Homo sapiens: one gene and its partners. The protein of the gene in region 1 interacts with the protein of each later gene in a pairwise test. Each region holds a gene or a part of one and is shown on either strand. Other genes may lie near its edges. The genes, in order: CCK, MAPDA, CITED1, NUP43, HELLS, BRWD1 and RGR.

Region 1 (2,930 bases):
CTGATTAAGTTCAACACCATTTTACCAAGCCATTAAAAGATAATTATTGAAGCCTAGGAAAGGGTTCCTAGATACAGTGAATACCCTCTACTGAAAACGCAAAGGACCTTGGAGCCACCCAGATACCAACCCTTGGAAATCCTCTAGCAGGAAGGGGTCAATGCTGAGAATGCCTGAGATCTGGCTACAACAGTTTAAAAAAGCAGTGACAATGTGTCCATTTCCACCAAAGTATGTAACAGAAGGAAAGAATCAGCAGCAGTTTTGTGTTCTCCTTGCAATGACTTACAAATTATTACCCAACAAGAGAGGTATTTGTTTTTACTTTACTGTTGCAGAGATGGTCACAGTTGTAGCAAGAGCTGAGCAAGTCAGTTTTCTCAGCATCAAAGTCTTTCTCCAGGAATAAGGTGATTCAGCAGCTCACTAGCCGAGTGGCATGCAGGCAATTCTGACCTGAGGCTAGCTTTCCCCTAAGCTCCTTCCAATTCTTTGTGTGATTCAGAGGGAGGCCCATTCATCTCTTGTGACCCATAGGAATCATGCTTTGGATTGGGGCAGCTTTTTTCTGCCAACTTTATCCCCAGTGACACTAATGATGAACACCGGCTGTGGAGCAGTGTGCTGAACAGTACAAACACAGCTGGACATTAAAAGAATTCAGCAGGCCAGGAGCAGTGGCTCACACCTGTAATCCCAGCACTTTGGGGGGCTGAGGCAGGTGGATCACATGAGGTCAGGAGTTCGAGACCAGCCTGACCAACATGGTGAAACCCCATCTCTACTAAAAATACAAAATTAGCTGGGCATGGTGGCACATGCTTGTAATCCCAGCTACACGGGAGGCTGAAGCAGGAGAGTAGCTTGAACTCGGGAGGTGGAGGTTGCAGTGAGCCGAGATTGTGCCATTGCACTCTGGCCTGAGCAACAAGAGTGAAACTGTCTAAAAAAAAAAAAAAAAAAAAAAAGAACTTAGCAAACACTGCTGGAAGGGATGTGGTAGGTGTGTTGCCTTTTCCATGAAGCTCTCTTACCCAACTGGTGTTCCAGGGCCTGGATTTGAACCTTAACCCCTGGCTTGACCAGAGAGGGATAAGATGAAGAGTTTTGGCTCTGCAGAGTTCTTCTGTGGGTTCACATGAAGGGAAGACTGGAACTCTGACCCAGAGGCTTCAGAAGGAAAGAACAAATCAGTGATTTGTTGTATTTCTTCCTGTCTTTGGGAAATTGCCCCACCCACCACCTTGTGTTTTGCTTTCCTGCTAATTAAATTGAAAAAGATAGAAATACTTCTCAGATGGAGAGAGAAAGTCTGAAAGCTTTTGAGTTCCTGCTGATTCTCTGCCTGAAAATAATTTAGTATCTGTCCCCAGATACAGGCTGAATTTCAGCCAGACCAGTCTGAAATATCCTAGGCTTTTCATTTAACTGTGGACCTGGACTCCCCTCCTCCAATTTAGGAAAGACCCTGGTTTTTCTTCTATGTAGGCTGAGGATATCTGCAAAAAGGCCTGAAATGTGCCGAATTGAGTCTTGGTTCCAAAATTGCTCTAGGGAAAAAAAAGAAAAAAAAAAAAGCTCATTACCAAATTATTTCCTAGAACCAATACTAGACAATGGCTCTTATAGCATAAATCTTAGCTGGAAAGTTCTTTCTAGTCCCTCTTCTCAGCCCCCCTCTCCCTTTGCCTTCAGCCAATTGTGCCAAACAAACCCAGGAGGGAATAGCAATCACTTGGAAATTTAGATGCCAACACCTAGGATCAACTCTAGCTAAAAAACAAGCAAACTCTTCTATGTGACAAACATGAACTAGGACTAAATACTTACACATATAGATACTGCACAGTTTCTATATGTGCAGTATATAGAATATTTTACATATTTTGAATATTTTACATATTTTGAGATCATATCAGATTTTTGCTCCACTATAGTATATATTATTCTTAAAAGTTCTAAACAAGACAATGCATTCTTTGAGCAGTACTTAAGAGTTTATCATTAGGAAATATCTGCAGCACTTTCAATGGCCCAAGAAGAAACAATTCTATTGGAGGGCAGTGGGTAAAGATATCTAGAGGCATTTAGTGTGCGCCTCCCCCATGCCCAGCAAAGCTTCAATGCTACATCTATATTGTCTTTCTCAGTACAACAGCCCTGCACAGTGAATATTATTATACCCATTTTGCCAGTGTGGAAGCTGGGGCTCTAAAAGCCTGAGTAACCTACATGCAGTTGCATATCTACGCAACAGCAGGGCTGAGACTCTATCTAGTCCTGCTCCCCCCAGGAGGGCCTGGAAGCCATTCAGCTTCCTAGCTGTACTGCCTATTCCACATTTTAAAGTTTAAAAGAGCTAAACCCTTCAGTTTTAGCAAGAGCTAAGAAAGTCACTGTTTTCTCAGCACCAAAGTCTTTCTCCAGGAATAAGGTGATTCAGCAGCCCACTAGCTGAGTGACATGCAGACAGTCCCGAGGCTAGCTTTCCAATAAGCCCCTTCCAATTCTTTGTGTGATTCAGAGGGAGGCCCGTCCATCTCTTGTGGCCCATAGGAATCAGGCTTTGATCAATTCCATACATCAGATGTAAGCCCCTACTCTATGTCAGCACTGGGAAAGTGAGTGAGGACCCTGGTAAATACACATGACATGAGGACAGAACTGTACGTGGAACGGGGAAGTCAGGGTGTGTGATAAATGCAGCTTCCATGACTGAACATGGTGCCCCCACCGTTAACTGAGGCTGCTTGCTCGTATTGAAGCTGTCACCTTGCTTCCATTAGATGGAAATTTGGGTTGTGCCCAGGCCTTAGAGTGGGCACTCATCATCACAGCAGGCAGAAGGATGGGTCATGTTTCCATGTGACTGTGTACAGGTAACTGGGTCTATAGGTTTTCCTGAATTCAAGGGTAATATTTCACCTGAA
Region 2 (3,500 bases), on another chromosome or scaffold:
ACCGTGCCCATCCTGATGTACATTATTAATGAGTGAGTTATTCTTAAGTAAAAAGTAGTAAAATTCCAGTCAGGCATTATCTGTTTAAGGAAGGAAACAAAGGCCTGCAGCAGTTTCTTTTGTTCTTCCTTGTTTAGTTGTTTTCACTCTGAGAAAAGGATACCTGCTCCTTATGTTTGCATTGTTACAAGCAGAGGCTGATTCTTGCTTCCTGCATCATGGGCACTTGTGAGACAATGCCATTGAGTGGATGCAGAATCATGTTTTATGGTAGTTACTAAAATGTAGGTTATTCATTCGCTTCTCAGGGAATAGTTTCTTAGGCCAGGAGCAAGCTGTGATGTGGTAAAACCTCTCTGGATAGAGATGAGATCTGGCTATGATCTGGAGGAATTTCCTGAGATCCTCCTTCTATAAGAGCAGCATCAGGAGACATTGGGGCCCTCTTAGCACCTTGTTTATGACCCAAAGAGACCTAGGTCATCTTGTTTCCTGATATATGTAGCTCAGTAATCATTTGGGGGTAAAATTTTTGAAACTTATTGTAAAGTATAAGTGTTTACATAAGATAAGGAGAAGGCTCTCATCTTGCATTTTTGAACCATAGAATCAGTTCCACGTTGTACTGGTGAGAGTAGTGAAAGGGAAGGAGAGAAGAGCCAACTCATAGGGCTCTTTCAATGGAGTTTTAAAAGAAGGATATTAACCTAAATATGCAACAGTAGAGGAATGGTTAAATAAAGGCTAATGGAATATTAGGCAACCATTAAAAATACTGGTGAAGACACTTTAATGACATGGGGAAATACTCGGACTCATGTTAAATGACTGAACTGGGTACATATATACCTAGTAGTATCTTCTCTATTTAAAAATGTGTATATGGGCAGAGTGCAGTGGCTCATGCCTGTAATTCCAGCGCTTTGGGAGGCTGAGGCAGGAGGATCACTTGACGCCAGAAGTTCGAGACCAGCCTGGGCAGCATCATAAGACCCCCCCCACCTCTATGGGCTCCAAGGGCTGCAGTGAACCATGATCGTGCCACTGCCCTCCAGCCTGAGCAACAGAGAGAGACCTTAAAAAAGGTCTCTTGAAATAATACATAAAAATAAATGTGTATATGTGTACTTGGAAAACAGTAGTTATCTCTGGGTGGTGGGGTTATTTTTATTTATTTATTTTTTTTGAGACGGAGTCTTGCTCGTCACCCAGACTGGAGTGCAGTGGTGGGATCTTGGCCCACTGCAACCTCCGCCTCCAAGGTTCAAGTGATTCTCCTGCCTCAGCCTCCCGAGTAGCAGGGATTATAGGCACATGCCACCACACTTGGCTCATTTTCATATTTTTAGTAGAGACAGGATTTCACCATGTTGGCCAGGGTGGTCTCGAACTCCTGACCTCAGGTGATCGGCCCGCCTCGGCCTCCGAAACTGATGGGATTACAGGCATGAGCCACCACACCCTATTTTTATTTTTATTTATAATTTTATATATTTTACCAGAGACTTTCCACCAAACATAAGCATTTTATAATCCGGGTAAAAGGGTATTTTATTTTACCCAATGTAGCCTAAAGAAAAAGAAAAAAAGGTATTTTACAGGAGGTTGCTCTGGAGAGTGCTCTTGCAGATCCCCTCAGAGAGCAGAGCACTCAGACTTGGAAGAACATGCCTGGTTCCCTGGATGAGAAACACTAAGCCCGAGCAGGATTGAGGGGAAAGGAATCCAAGTTAGGACTTTTTTTCTGGACTAGGAGGAGAGAAAATATCCCTTTTAAAAAAAAAAAAAAAAAAAAGGACAAGTGTAGTGGCTCATACCTGTAATCCCAGCACTTTGGGAGGCCAAGGCGGGCGTGTCACTTTCAGCCCAGGAGTTTGAGACCAGCTTGGGCAACATAGCAAAACCCCGTCTCTACTAAATATCCAAAAACTAGCTGGGCGTGGTGGTACCTTCCTGTAGTCTCAGCTACTCAGGAGGCTGAGGTGGCAGGATGGCTTGAGCTCAGGAGACAAAGGTTGCAGTGAGGCAAGATCATGCCACTGCACTCCAGCCTGGGTGACAGCCAGACCCTGTCTCAAAAAAAAAAAAAGCCTTTATTTTTTTTCATTTCATTTCTCTAACACTTCATTTCCCCCTAATTTTATTAAAATATAATTTGCATTTACTAAAATATACCCATAAGGGCCATGTTTTCACTCATCTTTAACTATGCCCTTGTCATAGCATAAAGTGAAAATGTAATTGTTCATATAGGATTGCTGAAGGTGAGGGATGAAATAGTTGATGATCTCTTTACATGTATTTTCTATGTGTCCTTTCTAGGAATGACTAAAAAGACTTATGTGGAATCTATACTTGAAGGTATAAAACAGTCCAAACAAGAAAACTTGGACATTGATGTTAGGTAAGAAGATTGTACCTTAGTAGTTAACATTTACAAAACCAGAATGTGAATTTTTACTGTTTTGATCATGGGTGTAATGGATTTTTTAAAATTAATCATTCATTGATTTATACAATAGAAAAATAAAATCAAGGACCCTGTTGTTTAAAGTGAGAACACAATTCTGAGTTTATTCATAAGGCAATAAAATTCTGAGTATTTTTACATGAGTAAAGTATGGTGTTCCTTTGCCATTAAGCTAAAATGAACTTCTTACTGTGGCCTACAAGGTCCCACATGATCTGGCTGCCTCTGTTACTTCAGCAGCTCATCTAGACCACTCCTCCTCCCTTACACGTGGGCCTGCTGTCTGTTCCTAAAATAAGCAAAAAAGACTGTTCCCCTTCAGCACCTTTGTTTAGTATTCCCCAGAACACATTTCTACCAGATTCCTGCCCAGCTGGCTGGCTTCTTCTCATTATTCAGATCTCAATTGGCTGTTACTTCCTCAGAGGGGCCTTCCTTTACCACTCTGTCTAAAGTGCCCTACTAATCCTCTAGTCACCCATCTATTTCCTTTATGGCATTATTTGTAACAAGATTAGGAATTATCTTGTGTTAGTTTGTATATATGCCCACCCACTAGGGTGTAAGTGTAGTGAAGCCAAGGACCTTGTTTTTTGATTCACCACTACATCTTTAGTACTTACCACAAAGTAGGTACATAGTATGGGCTCAGTAAAGCCCTAAATGAAGAAAGAAAAAAAGCTAGCTGTATAGTTTCAGGCTATAAGACTCTAAAAATTAAGCTTAAGTAATAACCCCAATAAAAAACCAAGCAGAAGACAATAGAATGCAGAGAAGAAGACATACAAAGAGCTGGTAGACATATAGAAATACAGAGAAAACTACTTAATTCATTAATCATATATTACAATACTGTTTCAGTAGGCTAAAAAAAGTAATAGCCAGTGTTTGTAAGTTACACACTGCTGGTAAGCATATGTAATTAATAAAACCTCTTTAAATCCTGCACTGGTACACAGGTAAGGGGGGAAAAACCTCTCTAAAGAGCAATATATGTCAAGATTTATAAAAAAGTTTTTCCCTCTGACAC
Region 3 (4,245 bases), on another chromosome or scaffold:
CCCATAGCCCGGACTCGCCAGCCCCACCCCGGGAGCCTTGGCCGGTCCACAGGGCTGCCGGACTCGCGTGGCCGCGTGGACTCCGTTCCCCAGCCGGCCCTTTGCTTTCACACGATCCGCGGTGACTGCACCAGCTCGAGCGCCTTTAAAGGGCCACAGACGCCAGCCGCTGCTATAAAAATGTGCCCGGCGGCAAAGCTGCAGAAGGGGCACCGCTGAGCTGCCGAGAGGAAGCTCGCTCTGCCCGGCTGCCCTCTTGTAGTCCGCCGGCGAGGGGCAGTTCTCGGTGAGGAGGAAGAGAGCAGCGGACGGCACAGCACCCGCGCGGGCCCTCCGTGAGTATCCAGTTCAGATTTTGCCACCAACTCGCCCACGAGCCAGGACATGTGCTAATAATGCCCTAAGCCGGTTATAAAGACGTGGAAATTGAGGGGAGAAAAAAAAAGGGAAAAAAAGGGTCTGTCCTTCCTGGGATTCCTAGCCGAGGCCAGTCTGCTGCCGTGTGCGTGTGCGTCAGGGCTCTCCGGGCGGCAATGGGGGCTTGAGAGCCGGGTCCCCAGCGCCGGGAAGGGAGCGCGGTGGCCGCCACCGCCACCGCCCCGGAGTCCGGCGCCGAAGCTGCGGGCGGGCGGGCGGGCACCAGCTCGGTCAGGGGCTGCTTGGCGCGGCACTGTGCGGTGCAGCGGCGGCGCGGCGCGGTGCGGGCTTTTCCCAGGCGCCCCGGGGTCGGGTGGCCAACGGCGCGGCCGCGGGCGCTGAGCGCGACCGGTTCGCGGTAGCGGTGGCGGCGGCGTGCGTGCCAGGGGCTGGGGGCTCCGCCGCCTCTCTTGCGGCTCACCGAGCTCCGCGCTTCCCTCTCTCCAGGGCAGGCGGCTTCTCAGAGGTAAGCCGGGCCGCCGGGCTGGGCGCCGGGCTGGGCGGCGGGGCCGAGGACTCCCGTGGAGCGGGTATGGGGAGTGGGCGGCCGCCAGGCGGGCCGGAGGGTTCTGGGGAGACTTGCTTTCTGTTGGAAAGCTGCTCTGCTGGGGGCGAGGGGCCGCCCGCCCGCCCGCCCGCCAGCGCTCGGGTTCGCTTGCCAGCGCGCCCCCCTGCCGGCCAGCGGGGCCGGGTGCCCGCTTCTCCCGGGGAGACGGCAGCACCTTTTCTCCCTGCGCCCGCGCTTTCTCCAGCTTGGCTTCCACCGACTTTGCTAATCTCCCGGACCGCATCTGGACGCTCTGGCTCCGGAGCTGCACAAAGCTCAGATTTACTTCGGGGAATTGAGGCAAGAGGGGGCTTTTCGGGCCGAGTTCAGCGGAATTGCGGGATGGAAGTTAGCGAATTTGGGCAACTTGCCTCTACTGCCCAGTCGACCTCAGCCCTCCCCTCCCCCGACACACGCCCACACACACACACCCACGCGCACACCCCTCTCCCTATAAACGCGGGCTGGCGAGCCGCGCGCCGAGTCCCTGCTTCGCAGAGCACCGGACTTGGAGTCAGAGAGACCTGGCTGCGAATCCCGGCTCCGCCACTTTCTAGCGCTGTGACCTTGGGCAAGTTACCGCACCTCTCCGAGCCTCTCTCACTCTTCTCCTAGCGGGGTTTTAGCACTGACCGCAGGCGGCTTGGCTAGGGGGTAGGCTCAGCCTGCTGCCGCGTCGGATGCTCAGCGGGCGCTCAGTAAGTGTTGATCAGGCGCGAGAGTGGCAGCAGCCGGCGCCGGAGTGCGGACTCGCCGCGGAGGCCGACACCCCGTGCCCCTTCCTGCCTGTCCATCCTGTCTCTAAGATCAGTTCCTGATACAGCACTTGCGGGAACGGACGCTCAGGGCCCCGGTGGCCTGGGTGCACGCGCCCGCCGTGCAAGGGATGCTCCCGGCCGCCCCCGGTTCCGCGGCTCCATCTGGGATGCGGCGAGGAGGGCAGCCGAGCTGTCCGCAAACAACGGGCCTTTAGTTTTCAGGTGGCGAAACTGACTGGTCTGGTTAGAGCGCGTCCAAGCCAAGCCGCAGTGCTGTTTGGATTTTTAAATTTCTCCTTCTGAGTGAGAAAATAGCAATCGAGATGGAACCATCCGGTTGGTGCCATTTTAACTTTTGGTCCCCCAACAGGTTAAAGATGAGGCCCCCACCTGCCTCTCCCTTCTCTTTTCCCTCTCCCCTTCCCACCCCTGTCTAGGCGGGAGGGGGCTGCTCGCCCAAGGGAAGGCCTGAAGCGAAGAGCGGGCAGCGGGACTGGGAACTGGTGGCCGGGGGGCCGCCAGGCATCAGCCGGCGAGAAGGCACTTGTTGCTCTAGGTTTCCCAGCCGCCTGTCGCAGCCGTTTCGCAGTGGTCAGCTCGCGGCTTGGAGAGCGGGCTGGGACGTTTCCGCGTTGCCAAGTTTTGCCCACGAACGGGCTAGAGGGTGGTGGAGGAGGGCAGAAAGCCGGGGAAGCAGAGCCAGGGATGCCGATGGAAATGCGATTGCTTCTTCAGACGCATTCAACAACACTTACTGAGCGCCTATTGAGCGCAGACCCAGGCTGGGGTCAGGGTGGGTGGTGGGTCAGTAATGGAAGGCAGAAGATCTGAATGGACACAGGGCCTCTTCTGGGGGAGCTCCCAGATTGAAGAGGGAGGCGCGGTAAAATGGTCTTCCCCCACGAACTGATATCAGAATAGAGAGAGTTTTTTTGCTCGTTCTCTCTTTTGATTTTTCTAATGTTTCTCTTTTGGTTTTGCTGTTGTTGCTGCTGCTCCTGTTGTTTTTTCTTCGTTTTGTACATTCGGGTACCAAGCGGCAAAAAGGAGAGGGAAGGCTGGATAGGAACAGGAAAAGATGGACAGGGCCCCCAGACATTTTTCTTAGGACAGGAAAATTGTCTGATACTGATTGTGCTAGGGCTCTTGAAGACGACATGTGTTAGACTTCTTGTCTGGTGATCACTTGCTTTTGAAATATTTTTCTACGGTTGCCTCAGAGAAGGAGCAGGGCTTCAATCAAGCAATGATGCGGGACCCAACAGCTGATATTTTTTCCTCATGTTTTTAAAAAAATGTTTACCCCTTTCTCTATTTTTTCCCTCCCCTACCCCCATCCACCCAAGTAAGCAATGCAAAGATGATACAGAGAGGTAGTAAGTGGCCACTTTCTAGAAGTGTCTGAGCAGATTCTTAATGACCGCTGCGGAGTGGAGAGTGTCACGGAGAATTCTAGCCTCCTTGGAAAGATTAGAGACTCTTTTTAAGGTCCTCAAGATTCTTTGGACCAAGAGGTATTTATAAATATGAAATTCTACATCTCTAATTGATCATGAAAGCTAGAATATATGGGGCTTTTTTTTTTTAAAGAGATAGGGTCCCGCTATGTTGCCCAGCCTGGTATCAAACTCCAGGGCTCAGGTGATCCTCCCACCTCAGCTTCCTGAGTAGCTGAGACTACAGGAGGGTGCTACTGTGCCTAGCTATGGGACATTTTTTTCTTCTTTGTAAACAGGCCTCCAGGAAAATAAGTTGAGATTTTCAGAGGTTTGTTTATTTTCTGGTTTGGAGGTATTCTTTTGCCTTCATTCCCTTATCCTTTGGCACTTGAGCCAGGAAATCACTTCTTTGGAAGCCTTTTGAATCCAGCTAGGTATGATGACTTAGCCAGTGGTCAGGTGAGGCATGTGGCCATAGGGGTGCTAGATTCTGCTCCCAGAACCGCTGCTACCTGACTAAAAAGGCATTGAATCTCTGTGCCTCACTTGTCACTATAGATGGGAATGGCTGGACTCAGGTTTCTGGGGTAGGCATCCTAGGAAAGCCCAATGCTGGGGCTGTCTTGGAGGGGGCTTGAGACATGGAGGAAAGTGACACATTCCTAGCTTCTCTGGCTCCAGCTGCCTCAGAGCCCCCAGACCACCCTAATCAGCCTGGCTTCTCACAGGCATGCCCAAGGTCATGCTTTGGAGCTCCATGACATTTGCGCTAGAGACTTGTTATTTCCCTGTGCTGCAGCCTCTAGCTTTCTAGGTCTTCCTTGCCCTGACTTCTTCTCACATTCTCCCAGTCCCAGTGGAGGCCCCAACTCTCCAGCCTGGATGCTAGTAGCCCATTGAGACAATATGTTGCTTACTCAGGGACATTCCTGTCCTCTGAACCAGGAACAGTGCCACCCTCACCCCCACACATACACCTTGGGACTGTGAAGTCACTTGCATGAGGAAGCAGTATGTCCCATCTTGGTGATATGGGTAGGTGGCTGCCTGGGCAGTACCTGGCCGAATCAAGCACCTTTCCTGC
Region 4 (3,500 bases), on another chromosome or scaffold:
TACAGACATGACCCACTGCACTGGGCGACATTACTTATTTGTTAATTAATGACCATTGCCTGGTGGCAGTGTAGAGGAGTGGCACAAACTAAAGTCCATAAAGTATATGTTAAATTATGAGGCATAAGTTCTAAACACTAGGAAATCAACAAAAAGGACCATTATGACAATAAGGAGTGACTTCATGGAGAGGGCGAGAGTTGATGAGGGTGAAAATGAGTAGATTTGGGATGAGTCTGCAGAATAATACAAGGTTAGAATGAGCTCTGTAGGAAGCACTGGAGTTTGGCTCAATAGAATGGAAGTTCTAGGTCAGGGACTAGTGGGAAGTAAGATTGGGTTTAGAGGAGCTTGAACAACTCTCTCAGAAATGCAGGGTAACAATCTTAAGAGTTAAAAAGAAATGTATGAAAACTCAGCCTTCCATTTAGAAAACAGTTCAAGGCTGGGCCTGGTGGGTCATGCCTGTAATTCTAGCACTTTGGGAGGCTGAGTGAGGCGGATCACCTGAGCTCAGGAGTTCGAGACCAGCCTGGCCAACATGGTGAAACTCCGTCTCTACTAAAAATACAAAAATTAGCCAGGCATGGTGGCATGTACCTGTAATCCCAGGTACTAGAGAGGCCGAGGCAAGAGAATCGCTTGAACCTGGGAGGCGGAGGTTGTAGTGAGCCCAGAGTACGCCACTGCCCTCTAGCCTGGGTGACAGAGCGAGATCCATCTCAAAAAACAAAAAGAAAAAGAAAACAGTAGGCCAGGCGTGGTGGCTCAAGCCTGTAATCCCAGCATTTTGGGAGGCCGAGGCTGGTGGATCACCTGAGGTCGGGAGTTCGAGACCAGCCTGACCAACATGGAGAAACCCAGTCTCTACTAAACATACAAAATTAGCTGGGTGTGGTGGCACATTTCTAATCCCAGCTATTTGGGAGGCTGAGGCAGGAGAATAGCTTGAATCCGAGAGGTGGAGATTGCGGTGAGCCGAGATCGCGCCATTGCAGTCCAGCCTGGGCAACGAGCAAAAAAAAAAAAAAGAAACAGAAAACAGTTCAGATGTCCTGTGAGTAAATGTTTTTCCCATCCAAAGAGAATCCATTTAAACATATACATTAACCATGCATTTTTCTATAGAAATTTAAATTATAAGTTACTGGAAATTGTAATATATCAATCCATGAAAGGAGTGTGATTTAAGATTTTCTTGGGAAAAAAAGGGGACTCATTAACACATACTACCATTTTTTAAATTTTTAGACAATGCAGATAGTAGTACACTCCATGCTGTAACCTTTCTTCGAACTCCTGAGATTCTTACTGTAAATTCAATTGGACAGTTGAAAATATGGGATTTCAGACAACAAGGAAATGAGCCTTCTCAGATATTGTCACTGTAAGTGTTGATTTGTAATTTCAGTAATGTAATCCACAAATTAATGTGTTAGGTTGTTTATAGCTACTGGCTTTAAGCCATATTGAATTTTAATTGCATTTTAAGAGGGAGATCCCTGATTAAAATTTGGTAGAGCAAGCATAACTTGACGGGGTTGGTACTACTATGCTTCATTTAGTAATTATTTGTTATAGTGATTCAGAGCCTTTACTCTTTGAAGTTTGTATTATTTCATGGAGAACTTATTTCTGCTCTTTCAATGATTGTTTAATGGATAAAATATACTCCAGATGTAATGATTGGGGGAAAAATATAATTCCAAATATTTTTTCTGAGCAGAAATCCCCCTTTGTAGGTGTACAACGTTCTCTCGTAAGAAAATAGAATGTGTCACACTGAAAAAATAGTTACATAAACTAAGCATTAAATAAGATGATAAATAATATTTAGTATATAATTGATGTATGAGTTTTTAAATAATTTAACAAGTGGAAATGTGATTTGTACATCTTACCATCGGATTGTCTTTCATTCCATGTCTCCAAATTGAAGTGAAAATGAATAATTGTGGCCTTGAATTATTTCAAAATTGTACTATTTAGAAATATATCTAATTTAGTTCATTTTTTTTGGTATCATTAAGATTCAGCCAGGCTGGGCGTGGTTGCTCATGCTTGTAATCCCAGCACTTTGGGAGGCCGAGGCAGGCAGATCACTTGAGGTCAGGAGTTCAATACCAGCCTGGCCAACACAGTGAAACCCCGTCTCTACTAAAAATACAAAAACTAGCCAGGCATGGTGGCACGTGCCTATAGACCCCGCTACTCAGGAGGCTGAGGCAGGAGAATCACTTGAACCTGGGAGCCAGAGTTTGCAGGAGAATCACTTGAACCTGGGAGGCAGAGTTTGCAGGAGAATCACTTGAACCTGGGAGGCAGAGTTTGCAGTGAGCTAAGATCGTGCCATTGCACTCCAGCCTGGGCAACAAGAACAAAACTCTGTCTCAAATAAAAAAAAGATTCAGCCAGTAGCTCCAGCCACTAAGTTGACACTTAGTTACCATATAAAACATGTTTCTTGGCTGAGCATGGTGACTCATGCCTGTAATCCCAACATTTTGGAAGGATTATCTGCGGTGAGAAGTTTGAGACCAGCTAGGGCAACACAGTGAGACCCCATCTCTACCAAAATTTCTTAAAATAGCCTGGCACGGTAGCATGTGCCTGTAGTCCTAGCTACTTGGGAGGCTGAGGCAAAAGGCTCTTTTGAGCCCAGCTTGCAGCAAGCTGTAGATAGGCCATTGCACTGTAGCCTGGGTGACAAGACAAGACCCTGTCTCTCTTTTTTTTTTTTTTCTTTGAGACAGAGTCTTACTCTGTCACCCAGGCTGGAGTGCAGTGGCATGATCTTGGCTCACTGCAACTTCTGCCTACTGGGTTCAGGCGATTCTCATGCCTCAGCCTCCCAAGTAGCTGGAACTACAGGCATGTGCCACCATGCCTGGCTAGTTTTTGTATTTTTAGTAGAGATGGGGTTTCGCCATTTTGGCCTGGTTGGTCTTGAACCTCAAGTCATCCACCTGCCTTGGCCTCCCAAAGTGCTGGGATTACAGGTGTGAGCCACTGAGCCTGGTCTCTTAAAAAATAAACAAAAAAAAACAGGCTGGGCACGGTTACCAGTCATCCCAGCACTTTGGAAGGCCAGGGTGGCTAGATCACTGGAGCCTGGGAGTTTGAGACCAACCTGGGCAACATGGAGAAACCCCATCTCTACAAAAATACAAAAAGTTAACCAGGCATGATGGTACACACATGTACTCCCAGCAACTCAGGAGGCTGAGGTGGGAGGATACCTGAGCCCAGGGAGTTTGAGCCTACAGTAAGCAATGATTGCAGCGCTGCATTCCAGCCTGGGTAAGTGAGGCCTTGTCTCAAAACAAACAAAAAACGTGTTTCCTGTGTTACACAAAGATAAATTATACTTTATTTGATTTTGACGTCATTGTTATCTCCCACAAAAGGACTGGTGACCGAGTGCCACTCCACTGTGTTGATAGACATCCCAACCAACAGCATGTTGTAGCTACTGGTGGCCAAGATGGAATGTTGAGTAT
Region 5 (3,500 bases), on another chromosome or scaffold:
GTTCGAGACCAGTTTGGCCAACATGGTGAAACCCCGTCTCTACTAAAAATATAAAAATTAGCCAGATGTGGTGGCGCATACCTGCAGTCCCAACTACTCAGGAGGCTGAGGCAGGAGAATTGCTTGAACCCAGGAGGCAGAGGTTGCAGTGAGCCGAGATGGCATCACTGCACTCCAGCCTGGGTGACAGAGCAAGATTCCGTCTCAAAAAAAAAAGTATGTAGCCGTTTTCAATCTTAATATAAGTGTGTAATTTGCTAAAACATTAGTGTTGTGGTTTCGTATTACATTGTCTTGTTATGTACAGATAAGGAAAGTTTTTGATTATTTTTTGCACTGGACCCTCATAAAAAGTGATTGCCTAGATGACACTAGAAAATTCTAAGAAAAGTTTTCAGAGTCTCTACCTACTTGAGATTAATAAACATGTCTTTGGAGGCCAAACAATTAACTATGCACAGGTAGAGATTCCTTTTCTTTTGGGAGAATACAGTCTGTATGGGCATGTATTTAGAAGTACTTAACAGAGGAAGAGCTAGCTTAAGTTCCTTAATGAGAAGCATTTGGCTTTAGGAAATCCTAAGGTTTGTGAGGAACCTAGAAAATGACTTTGACATTCATTGGCTACAGTTATTTTCTTTGACTTTTCACATGTATTTCCCTTTAAAAGAAGTCATTGTTAGTCTAGGAGATTTGAGTACTGATAGTGCCTGTGAAGTGGAGGAGGGGGAATAGTTGGAGTCAGGAGATTTCTTGGAGAGGTAAAAGGATCATGATATGTGTAGGCTAAAATAGAACTCCTCCCACCCCCCAATAAAAAATCTGGGATTGGTGTTGGGAGAGATAATGGGGTAGATAATGAGGAATTTCTGCCCTCGGTGTCCATTGGCATACTCTGTACTGTAGTTACCCAGAGTTGTTTCCTGCCAGGCACTCAGTGCTTTTAATAGATGGAGTTGCAATTTACCGTAATATAATCATGAAATTGATAAATAAAGAAAAAACAGTGATAGGAAGATTTGAAATACAGAAGACCAGGTTTAAGGATTAACCACTTACATGGTATTATTTTAATATTAATTGTATATTATTTTTTTCCATGATGGCATCTTAAAGCTTTAGTGATTTTTATTTTTATTTTTATTTTTTTGAGACAGAGTTTCACTCTTGTTGCCCAGGCTAGAGTGCAATGGCGCAGTCTCGGCTCACTGCAACCTCTGCCTCCGGGGTTCAAGCAATTCTCCTGCCTCAGCCTCCTGAGTAGTTGGGATTACAGGCATGTGCCGCCAAGCCTGGCTAATTTTGTATTTTTAGTAGAGATGGGGTTTCTCCATGTTGGTCAGGCTGGTCTCGAACTCCCAACCTCAGGTGATCCGCCCGTCTTGACCTCCTAAAGTGCTGGGATTACAGGCATTAGCCACCATGCCCAGCTGATTTTTTTTTTTAGGAAAAATTTTTCCAGGAGCACCAGGCAAGTATTTAGGTTTTTTTTGCTTGTTTGTTTGTTTTGAGACGGAGTCTCCCTCTGTCACCCAGGCTGGAGTGCAGTGGCGTGATCTTGGCTCACTGCGACCTTCACCTGCCGGGTTTAAGCGATTCTTCTGCCTCAGCCTCCCAAGTAGCTAGGACTACAGGCGCGTGCCACCACGCCCAGCTAATTTTTTTTGTATTTTTAGTAAAGACGGGGTTTCAACATATTGGCCGGCCTGGTCTCAAACTCCTGACATCGTGATCTGCCTTCCTCGACCTCCCAAAGTGCCAGGATTACAGGCGTGAGCCACCATGCCTGGCTGTATTTAGTTGTTTTAAAAATATGTGCTGGCCAGGCGCGGTGGCTCATGCCTGTAATCCCAGCACTTTGGGAGGCTGAGGCGGGGCAGATCGCTTGAGCCCAGGGGTTAAGACCAGCCTGGGTAACAGGGTGAAACCCCATCTCTACAAAAAATTAAAAAACTAGCCGGCATGGTGGCACGCGCCTATAGTCCTAGCTACTCAAGAGGGTGAGGCAGGAGGATTATCGCTTGAGCCTGGGAGGCGCAGGTTGCATTGAGCCGAGATCTCACCACTGCACTCCAGCCTGGGTGATAGAGCGAGACCCTGTCTCAGAAAAAAGAAAAAGTGCTAATTCTGTACAGGATTTAAGGTATCAACTATATCTAAGTTAAACCCACGTTATTTTAACTGAACTTAAATTTTAAAAGTTAAAAATTTAAGAATCCATATATTGTGTAAGTAATTTTCATCTCCCTGTTTTCATATTCACCTCAGTAGTTGCGTATTGTAACCACAGTAGTATACTGGTAATAGTAAAAGAAATTCTGTCCTAAAAGAACTGAAAATTGAGTTCAAGATATTAAGAATTATCTGTGTAGGTGGGATTATGGGTGATTTATATATTTTTTGACATTTAGTTTTTCTGTAATGAGTATGCATTACTTTTGTTAGGTCCATTCTTAGAATCTTACTGTAGTCACTGATTTTATAATAGAAATATATTTTGATGCCGGGTACGGTGGCTCACACCTATAATCCCAGCACTTTGGGAGGCTGAGGCAGGTGGACCACGAGGTCAGTTCAAGAGCAGCCTGGCCAAGATGGTGAAAGCCCGTCTCTACTAAAAATACAAAAATTAGCGGGGTGTGGTGGCAGGTGCCTCTAGTCCCAGCTATACTGGGGAGGCTGAGGCAGGTAATTGCTTGAACCCGGGAGGCGGAGGCAGAGGTGAGCCAGGATTGTGCCACTGCACTCCAGCCTGGGCAACAGAGTGAGACTCCATCTCAAAAAAGAAAAAGAAATATATTTTGAAAGAAAGCTATAGTGATGATGTAATAGCTAGGAAAATGTAAGGCAATATAAAATGATATCTTAGAGATATTGATAAGCTGGAGCAGCAAAACTACCCAAGTGCTAGGGCATTATTTAGAGTATAAAAATGAATTCATACCCCCATTTCTTTTCTTTTTTTTTTTTGAGATGGAGTCTCGCTCTGTTGCCCAGGCTGAAGTGCAGTGGCGCGATCTCGGCTCACTGCAAGCTCTGCCTTCCGGGTTCACGCCATTCTCCTGCCTCAGCCTCCCAAGTAGCTGGGACTACAGGCGCCTGCAACCACACGCGGCTAATTTTTTGTATTTTTAGTAGAGACAGGGTTTCACCGTGTTAGCCAGGACAGTCTCAATCTCCTGACCTCGGGATCCGCCCGCCTCAGCCTCCCAAAGTGCTGGGATTACAGGCGTGAGCCACCGCGCCCAGCCTCATATCCCCCATTTCAAACACGCTGTAAACAATGCTCAATTACTTTCCTCTTAAGTTGAAACCACCAATTACTGGGGAAAGGGGCAGTTAGATTTTATTGGTTGACTTTGTGTTTTTACTAATCCTTGTTGAAAAGTAGAGGAATTGGTTTAGTTGAGAAAACAAAATACTAAAAAATCTGCCACTAGACTTTTTAAGTCAAGAGTTTGTATAAAATGAAACATATCTACTATCTAATCTATAAAATT
Region 6 (3,500 bases), on another chromosome or scaffold:
TGGGAGGGAGAGAAACAGCAAAGAGAAAAAAGTTTCAAGGGAAACTTTTTCGGGGGGAAAAAACCAATGTGTGTAAGAGAAAAGGATGGTGAGAGTCAATCAGTGAACAAAGATAAATGTTTTGAATTACCTTTCATAAAATTGTTTGGTTTTTCTATTTTGTCATCATCTGAATCTAAATCAGTTTCACATCCATGATCTGAGGAACACTGGGACATAGCAATAGGGTCACAGTTCAGATTTCCTGAAATTGGGTTCATTTCCATTTTATGACATTTCCCATCTTCTCTATCTTGCTCTTCAGATTCAGAGTCTTCTGAGTCACTCAGAATCTTGGTTTTTTTAAAGAAACTCGCATTCTTGTGAAATGTATTGTATTTCCTACCACCAGATCTTCCTGGTTCAGAATCTGCTTCCTCTGAGATGCTCTCTGCCTTAAGTTTCTGCACAGACGTTGATGGGCCAGCAGTTCTGTTACATGCATGATCTGAATCATGACTTTTAGAGTCTTCCTCAGAAGACTCTATTTTAAGAAATTTTGTCTTTGAAGGTGCTGGAGTATGGGACTTGTAACCATTAGCATGCCAATTTTTCCGGGCTACCCGCAAATCACTTTCTGACTCTGAGTCTCTGTTTTCAGATTCATCAACATTGCTCTGGGCAGTGTGAGAACTGGACACTGGTAATAGTTGATTTTCATCTTTTAGCTCCTCTTCTTCAATTTCTGACTTTAAGCTCTGTTCATCTTCAGAATTATGTAATAACTTTTTTCTAGCTACAGCAGAAGCATTGCGGTGAGGCAGCTTCCGACCAGAACAGACACTTTCAGAGCTAGAATTCTCTTCTACATCACTCATTAGCTTTATTTTATTGGCAGCCACAGCAGCACACTTCCTTAAGACTTTTCGGTTATTTCCAGCTCTGGCTTTTAGAATTTCACCAGTCTCCAATGAATTGTTATCAGAATCACTTAAATAGACTCTCTTTCGAGTGGCTTTTCTGCCACATCCATTTGCTAATGAAACGGGACCTAGAAATAAGGTTAACAATAAGATTAAAAAGATTTTCCTTATTTCAACATTTTTAAATGACTATTATTTTAATGATTTTCTTCACTTTTTTGGGGGGCGGGGAGGAGACGGAGTTTCGCTCTTGTTGCCCAGGCTGGAGTGCAATGGTGCAATTTTGGCTCACTGCAACCTCTGCCTCCTGGGTGCAAGCGATTCTCCTACCTCAGCCTCCTGAGTAGCTGGGATTACAAGCACCAGTCACCATGCCTGGCTAATTTTTTGTATTTTTAGTAGAGACAAGGCTTCGCCATGGTGGCCAGGCTGGTCTCGAAACTCCTGACCTCAGGTGATCCGCCCACCTCAGCCTCCCAAAGTGCTGGGATTATAGGCGTGAGCCACCGCACCCAGCCTTTTCTTCACTTTTTAATGCCAAAATTCATTTCCTTCCTAAATCTAAGGAACCTAAAGGACATTAACTTAATCTTACGTAGATGCATTAAATCGAGAATCTATTCAATTTATAACTTTTGGATTCTTTTGATATACATTCCATAAAAGTACTACTGAGTCTCTTACCAGTTTTTCTTTGAGCAGCTCTAGTTCTGGTTACCCTGAGATTGCTGCTTCTGGATAGCCCACTGCGTGAGGAGGATTCACGAGCTCTGGAACTCTCTTTGCTTTCCTCAGAACTACTGGAAGCTGACGATGACAAAGAGGTAGCTAAAGAATCTTCCACTTCACTTTCTAGGAAAAATAAAGTGTAAATAGTTACATATATTCTCCTGTCTTTACACACATAAGCAAGCAGTTCATAACATTACTCTGAACATTACATAACATTACTACAAAAGCAGATTCCTAAAATGCTTAGAATATATTTTTTAAAAACCATTCCCAAAAAAAGCTGATGAAATTTGGAGTATTAAAAGGTACATAATCAGCATTCCAAATAGTTTTTAATTATATTTCTAAAAATAACAGATTAATCCTAGTGTAGATTTACAAAATATAGTTTATGTATTTTATAAACAGACTTCCAATTAAAAATTTAATTAGCTGCAGGCCGGGCACGGTGACTCACTCCAGTAATCCTAGCATTTTGGGAGGCTGAGGTGGGTGGATCACTTGAGGCCAGGAGTTCAAAACTAGCCTGGCCAAATAGTGAAACCCCATCTCTACTGAAAATACAAAATTAGCCAGGCGTGGTGGCAGGACCCTGAAATCCCAGCTACTGGGGAGGCTGAGGCAGAAGAATCACTTGAACCCAGGAGGGGAAGGTAGCAGTGAGCCAAGATCGTGCCACTGCACTCCAGCCTGGGCGACAGAAAGAGACTCTGTCTCAAAAATAAATTAGTTAAATTAATTGGATCCATGTCTACTCCCTTCTGTGATATCAGATAGGTATTTCATATAAAAAAGACACCATCATTTCAATTCCAGCATTTCAGAAGACATAGTTTGCATGTCTCACCATCCTTTTACCCATTCCTAACAGCACAGTAAGGTCATTTCTTACATAACAGCTACACGAGAGAAAGAGTGTGAGAGGGAAGAAAAGAAAACTGGCTGTGATACCAAAATACTAGACACCAAATTGTGGTTCATCCTTTGAACTTGTTCTACTGTTTGCCCACCTCAGCTACTCCTGTCAACTCTACCATCCATCACCTTGACTCCCTGTTTTTCCAGGCTCTTCCCCTCCCTCTGCACATCACTGCCAAACTTAATCTTCCTGAAACATAATGTGACTCTGTCACTCAATAAGGAACCCAGTTCAGTAATCCAAACTCTTCTGCAAGGCTCGAAAGTTGCTAAACTTTGACTGTACTCTATCTGTTTGATCCCATTGTTTGTAACATTCCCCAAAACGGTCTTTTCATTTGCACAAAATGCATCCTTCTTTCCTTCAGTGCATTTTCTCATAGTTGCTACTAGGCTGTAATGTGTCCACTTATCACTAGTGCCATTTTCAATTACTCCAGCATACTCTGATTGGACATTCCATGCTATGAATGTATCCCTTAAAACACTGTACAGTTCTAATGTGATACACATGAACTTGCTTGTCTTTCTCCACGTTTTATCACAGTCCACTTCCATTCCAAACTTTTATCTGTATGTATATTTTTCAATGCTGTCAATACTATTTATTGAAATACTAGGTAAAAGATATGTATAAATGATTCAATTATAACAGTAAATAGTATGCTATTGTCATAATTCAGCAAAACCACTCAGAGCAGTACAGAAATAGATACACACCACAGCCTCATTTGTACAATGTTAACAAAGTTAGCATCAGCTACAGTTATGCTACCAGATGGCAACAACATGAACAGTTTAGAATTTACTACGTCATCAGCTTTGAACTTCATTGATTCTTAGTACTTCTTAATTTTTAAATTAAAAAGATACAAAAACTTCAAATGCTGCACACCAAGTGTGAAGAATCTATGTATCATGTAATTGACAATTCAATATAAATGTACC
Region 7 (2,704 bases), on another chromosome or scaffold:
TCTACTCATTCCGCCCTTTAACCTCCAATTCCCTCTGCTATTCTCCTGCCTCAAGAGCAGCAGTAATTTCTCGTTTCCTCTCAGGGACACCAGGGAATATGAACAATGTGACAGACAGCAACCAGGGGTTTTCTGCGTTTTCAGTGATCAAGAGAAAATCCAGCTTGTGCACAGCATAGGATGTTAGAACTGGAAACCACCCTCCCTTTGCTCAGATCGCCAAGGCCTGGGGAGCAAGGATCAGGACTGCTCAGATTCACCCAGACCCCGTAACTCTGGGGACCAGGGCTCCCTACTGGACACATCCGTGCTGTTCCACTTAACTCTTGCCAAGGATGTGAGGTTTGGCACAAAGTTACAGGCTTTTTAAATGCTACTTTTAAACCGCTTTGAGATGTTTAATTTAATCACAGTCACAGGGTGGTGCCCAAAAGATAAAAATCAACCTATAAGCACATTTGTCCAAGAAATACAATACTTCAAAATAAGCCCTCCTGGCCATTTTTTAGTTTCTGAATTACTATTCCCTTGCCACGGTTTTATTTTAACTTGGTCACCTGGATGACCTCTAGCAAAGGAGTCGTAACAAGCAACAAAGATTAGAACAAATTCAGATCTTAATATTATTTCTTTGCAACCACTCTATGAGGAAAGAGGTTTTCTTTCTTTTTTTTTTTTTTTTTTTTTTTTAGGCCGAGTTTCACTCTTGTTGCCCAGGCTGGAGCGCAATGGTGTGATGTCGGCTCACCGCAACCTCCGCCTCTGGGGTTCAAGCGATTCTCCTGCCTCAGCTTCCCGAGTACCTGGGATTATAGGCATGTGCCACCACACCCACCTAATTTTGTATTTTTGGTAGAGACGGGGTTTCTCCATGTTGGCCAGGCTGGTTTCGAACTCCTGATCTCAGGTGATCCGCCCGCCTCCGCCTCCTAAATTGTTGGGATATAGGCGTGAGCTGCCGTGTCCAGCCTTTTTTTTTTTTCTTTGTTTCTTTTTTTTTTCCTTTCTTTTTTTTTTTTTTTTTTTTTTTTTTTTTGAGACAAGGTCTTACTCTGTTGCCCAGGCTGGAGTGCAGTGGCAATCTCGGCTCACTGCAACCTCCGCCTCTCGGGTTCAAGCGATTCTCCTGCCTCAGCGTCCCTAGTAGCTGGGATTATAGGCACCTGCCACCACGCCTGGCTAATTTTTGTATCTTTTGTATCTGTTGGCCAGGCTGGTCTTGAACTCCTGACCTCAGGTGATCCACCCACTTCAGCCTCCCAAAGTGCTGGGATTACAGGTTTGAGCTATCGTGCCGGCCAGAAGGAGGTTTTCTTATCCCTGTGTCGCGGACTAAAAAATTGAGGCTGAGATGGGGGTTAACTAAGCAACTCACCAAAAACCACACACCTGGATTCAAACCTAGGTCTGGGACTCCACCACCCATGTGGTCAATCACAGTGCATGAAAGAAACTCTTTTTTTTAAGTCACTTCATCTGCCACTTTATTTATTTATTGTAAATTGGAAAAGGACTGTGCAAATCTATTTTAGCTGGAGCCCCGATGCTCCCCCGAGGTCAGAAGGAGAGAAAGGGCTTTCCTGGGACCAGAATCCAGTCCCCTGGCTCCCAGCTGGCTGCTGGCATAGGCGCCGCTTCTAGGCTGTCCTCCGCGATGCCGGTCCCAAGCCCTGTCTGGAGGTGCAAAGTTCACATTTACTGGAGGCTCAGGCAGCCGGGAGACAAGGCTGCCACCATGATCTCCTCATTTTTCTGCGTTGACTTTAAACCATTGTCTCTGGTGGGCATCGCCAAGGTCACACGCAGGGGTCCAGGGACCTCATCCCAAGCTGAGCGGCTTCCCGAGACCGCGTAGCCTCCCCAGGGGATTCCACGTCTTAGGGCCTCGGCTCCCGGGAGGGCCCCGAGGTGCTGAGCTCCGTTGTTCGTGGGTTTTTTTTTCCCCAAATAAGGGACAGTTAAGAGGAAAAAAAAAGTCTCTTGGTCAACATATTTTAATAATCCAAGATGGAAGAAAATATGCCCTCTTCCAGCTTAATCACCCTCTTTGTTAAAGAAAGTCAGGTCAGGGAGAAAACAGGCAAGAACTTGAGCGTCAGAATTGCACGTCCGCGTGTTTGTGCGGGGCTGGAACTTGGCAGCTCCCGCTGAAATTAAAGCGCGAGTCTTGCGCCCCCTCATGGCCCCAGGCGGCACCCCAGCATCTCCCGCTCTCTGGACAAGCCCCTCCCCCGCTGATTGTATTTCACATTGGGAGCCCAGACAGGGTGGTCTCGCCGGGTGGCTGTAGCTGTGGATGACGAGTTGGTTCTAGGACTGAGGCCTGAGGGCAGCTCAGCCTGGGGCCCCTTGAGCACGCAGTCACAGAGCCCAGGATTCCTCTTAAAGAGCACAGACGCAGGCCAGGCACAGTGGCTCATGCTTGTAATCCCAGCACGTTGGGAGGCCGAGGCAGGAGAATCCCTTGAACCCAGGAGTTCGAGACCAGCCTAGGAAACATAGTGAGACCCCTTCTGTATTTGACAAACAAAGAGTACAGACCCAGGAGGAAGCGCTCATTATCCACCCAGTCTCGGCCTCCAGCCACGTTGGGTATTGTCAGGCCATTTTACAGACACAGCAGCTGAGGTCAGGCAAGTTTAAATAAAAGGCTTAAGGTCACACAGTCTTAAACAACAGAGAGGCCCATCTGGTCCCAAGTTCC

Evidence for each region.
Region 2: the proteins of CCK (region 1) and MAPDA interact in binary tests that used the Homo sapiens proteins (3 or more experiments, as listed by UniProt).
Region 3: the proteins of CCK (region 1) and CITED1 interact in binary tests that used the Homo sapiens proteins (3 or more experiments, as listed by UniProt).
Region 4: the proteins of CCK (region 1) and NUP43 interact in binary tests that used the Homo sapiens proteins (3 or more experiments, as listed by UniProt).
Region 5: the proteins of CCK (region 1) and HELLS interact in binary tests that used the Homo sapiens proteins (3 or more experiments, as listed by UniProt).
Region 6: the proteins of CCK (region 1) and BRWD1 interact in binary tests that used the Homo sapiens proteins (3 or more experiments, as listed by UniProt).
Region 7: the proteins of CCK (region 1) and RGR interact in binary tests that used the Homo sapiens proteins (3 or more experiments, as listed by UniProt).

Annotation. Positions count from the first base shown.
Region 1 is NC_000003.12:42,260,256-42,263,185, reverse strand, and holds part of CCK (cholecystokinin preproprotein), read left to right. Parts: intron 1-2,930. UniProt on the Homo sapiens protein: This peptide hormone induces gall bladder contraction and the release of pancreatic enzymes in the gut. Its function in the brain is not clear.
Region 2 is NC_000015.10:43,340,672-43,344,171, forward strand, and holds part of MAPDA (N6-Methyl-AMP deaminase), read left to right. Parts: intron 1-2,322; coding exon 2,323-2,404; intron 2,405-3,500. UniProt on the Homo sapiens protein: Catalyzes the hydrolysis of the free cytosolic methylated adenosine nucleotide N(6)-methyl-AMP (N6-mAMP) to produce inositol monophosphate (IMP) and methylamine.
Region 3 is NC_000023.11:72,303,115-72,307,359, reverse strand, and holds the start of CITED1 (cbp/p300-interacting transactivator 1), read left to right. Parts: upstream 1-1,445; 5' UTR 1,446-1,535; intron 1,536-1,937; exon of another isoform or gene 1,938-2,045; coding exon of another isoform or gene 2,046-2,058; intron 2,059-4,245. UniProt on the Homo sapiens protein: Transcriptional coactivator of the p300/CBP-mediated transcription complex. Enhances SMAD-mediated transcription by strengthening the functional link between the DNA-binding SMAD transcription factors and the p300/CBP transcription coactivator complex.
Region 4 is NC_000006.12:149,736,530-149,740,029, reverse strand, and holds part of NUP43 (nucleoporin Nup43), read left to right. Parts: intron 1-1,251; coding exon 1,252-1,387; intron 1,388-3,407; coding exon 3,408-3,500. UniProt on the Homo sapiens protein: Component of the Nup107-160 subcomplex of the nuclear pore complex (NPC). The Nup107-160 subcomplex is required for the assembly of a functional NPC.
Region 5 is NC_000010.11:94,548,788-94,552,287, forward strand, and holds part of HELLS (lymphoid-specific helicase), read left to right. Parts: intron 1-3,500. UniProt on the Homo sapiens protein: Plays an essential role in normal development and survival. Involved in regulation of the expansion or survival of lymphoid cells. Required for de novo or maintenance DNA methylation. May control silencing of the imprinted CDKN1C gene through DNA methylation.
Region 6 is NC_000021.9:39,198,633-39,202,132, forward strand, and holds part of BRWD1 (bromodomain and WD repeat-containing protein 1), read right to left. Parts: intron 1,755-3,500; coding exon 1,587-1,754; intron 1,031-1,586; coding exon 131-1,030; intron 1-130. UniProt on the Homo sapiens protein: May be a transcriptional activator. May be involved in chromatin remodeling. Plays a role in the regulation of cell morphology and cytoskeletal organization. Required in the control of cell shape.
Region 7 is NC_000010.11:84,255,053-84,257,756, forward strand, and holds part of RGR (RPE-retinal G protein-coupled receptor), read left to right. Parts: intron 1-2,704. UniProt on the Homo sapiens protein: Receptor for all-trans- and 11-cis-retinal. Binds preferentially to the former and may catalyze the isomerization of the chromophore by a retinochrome-like mechanism.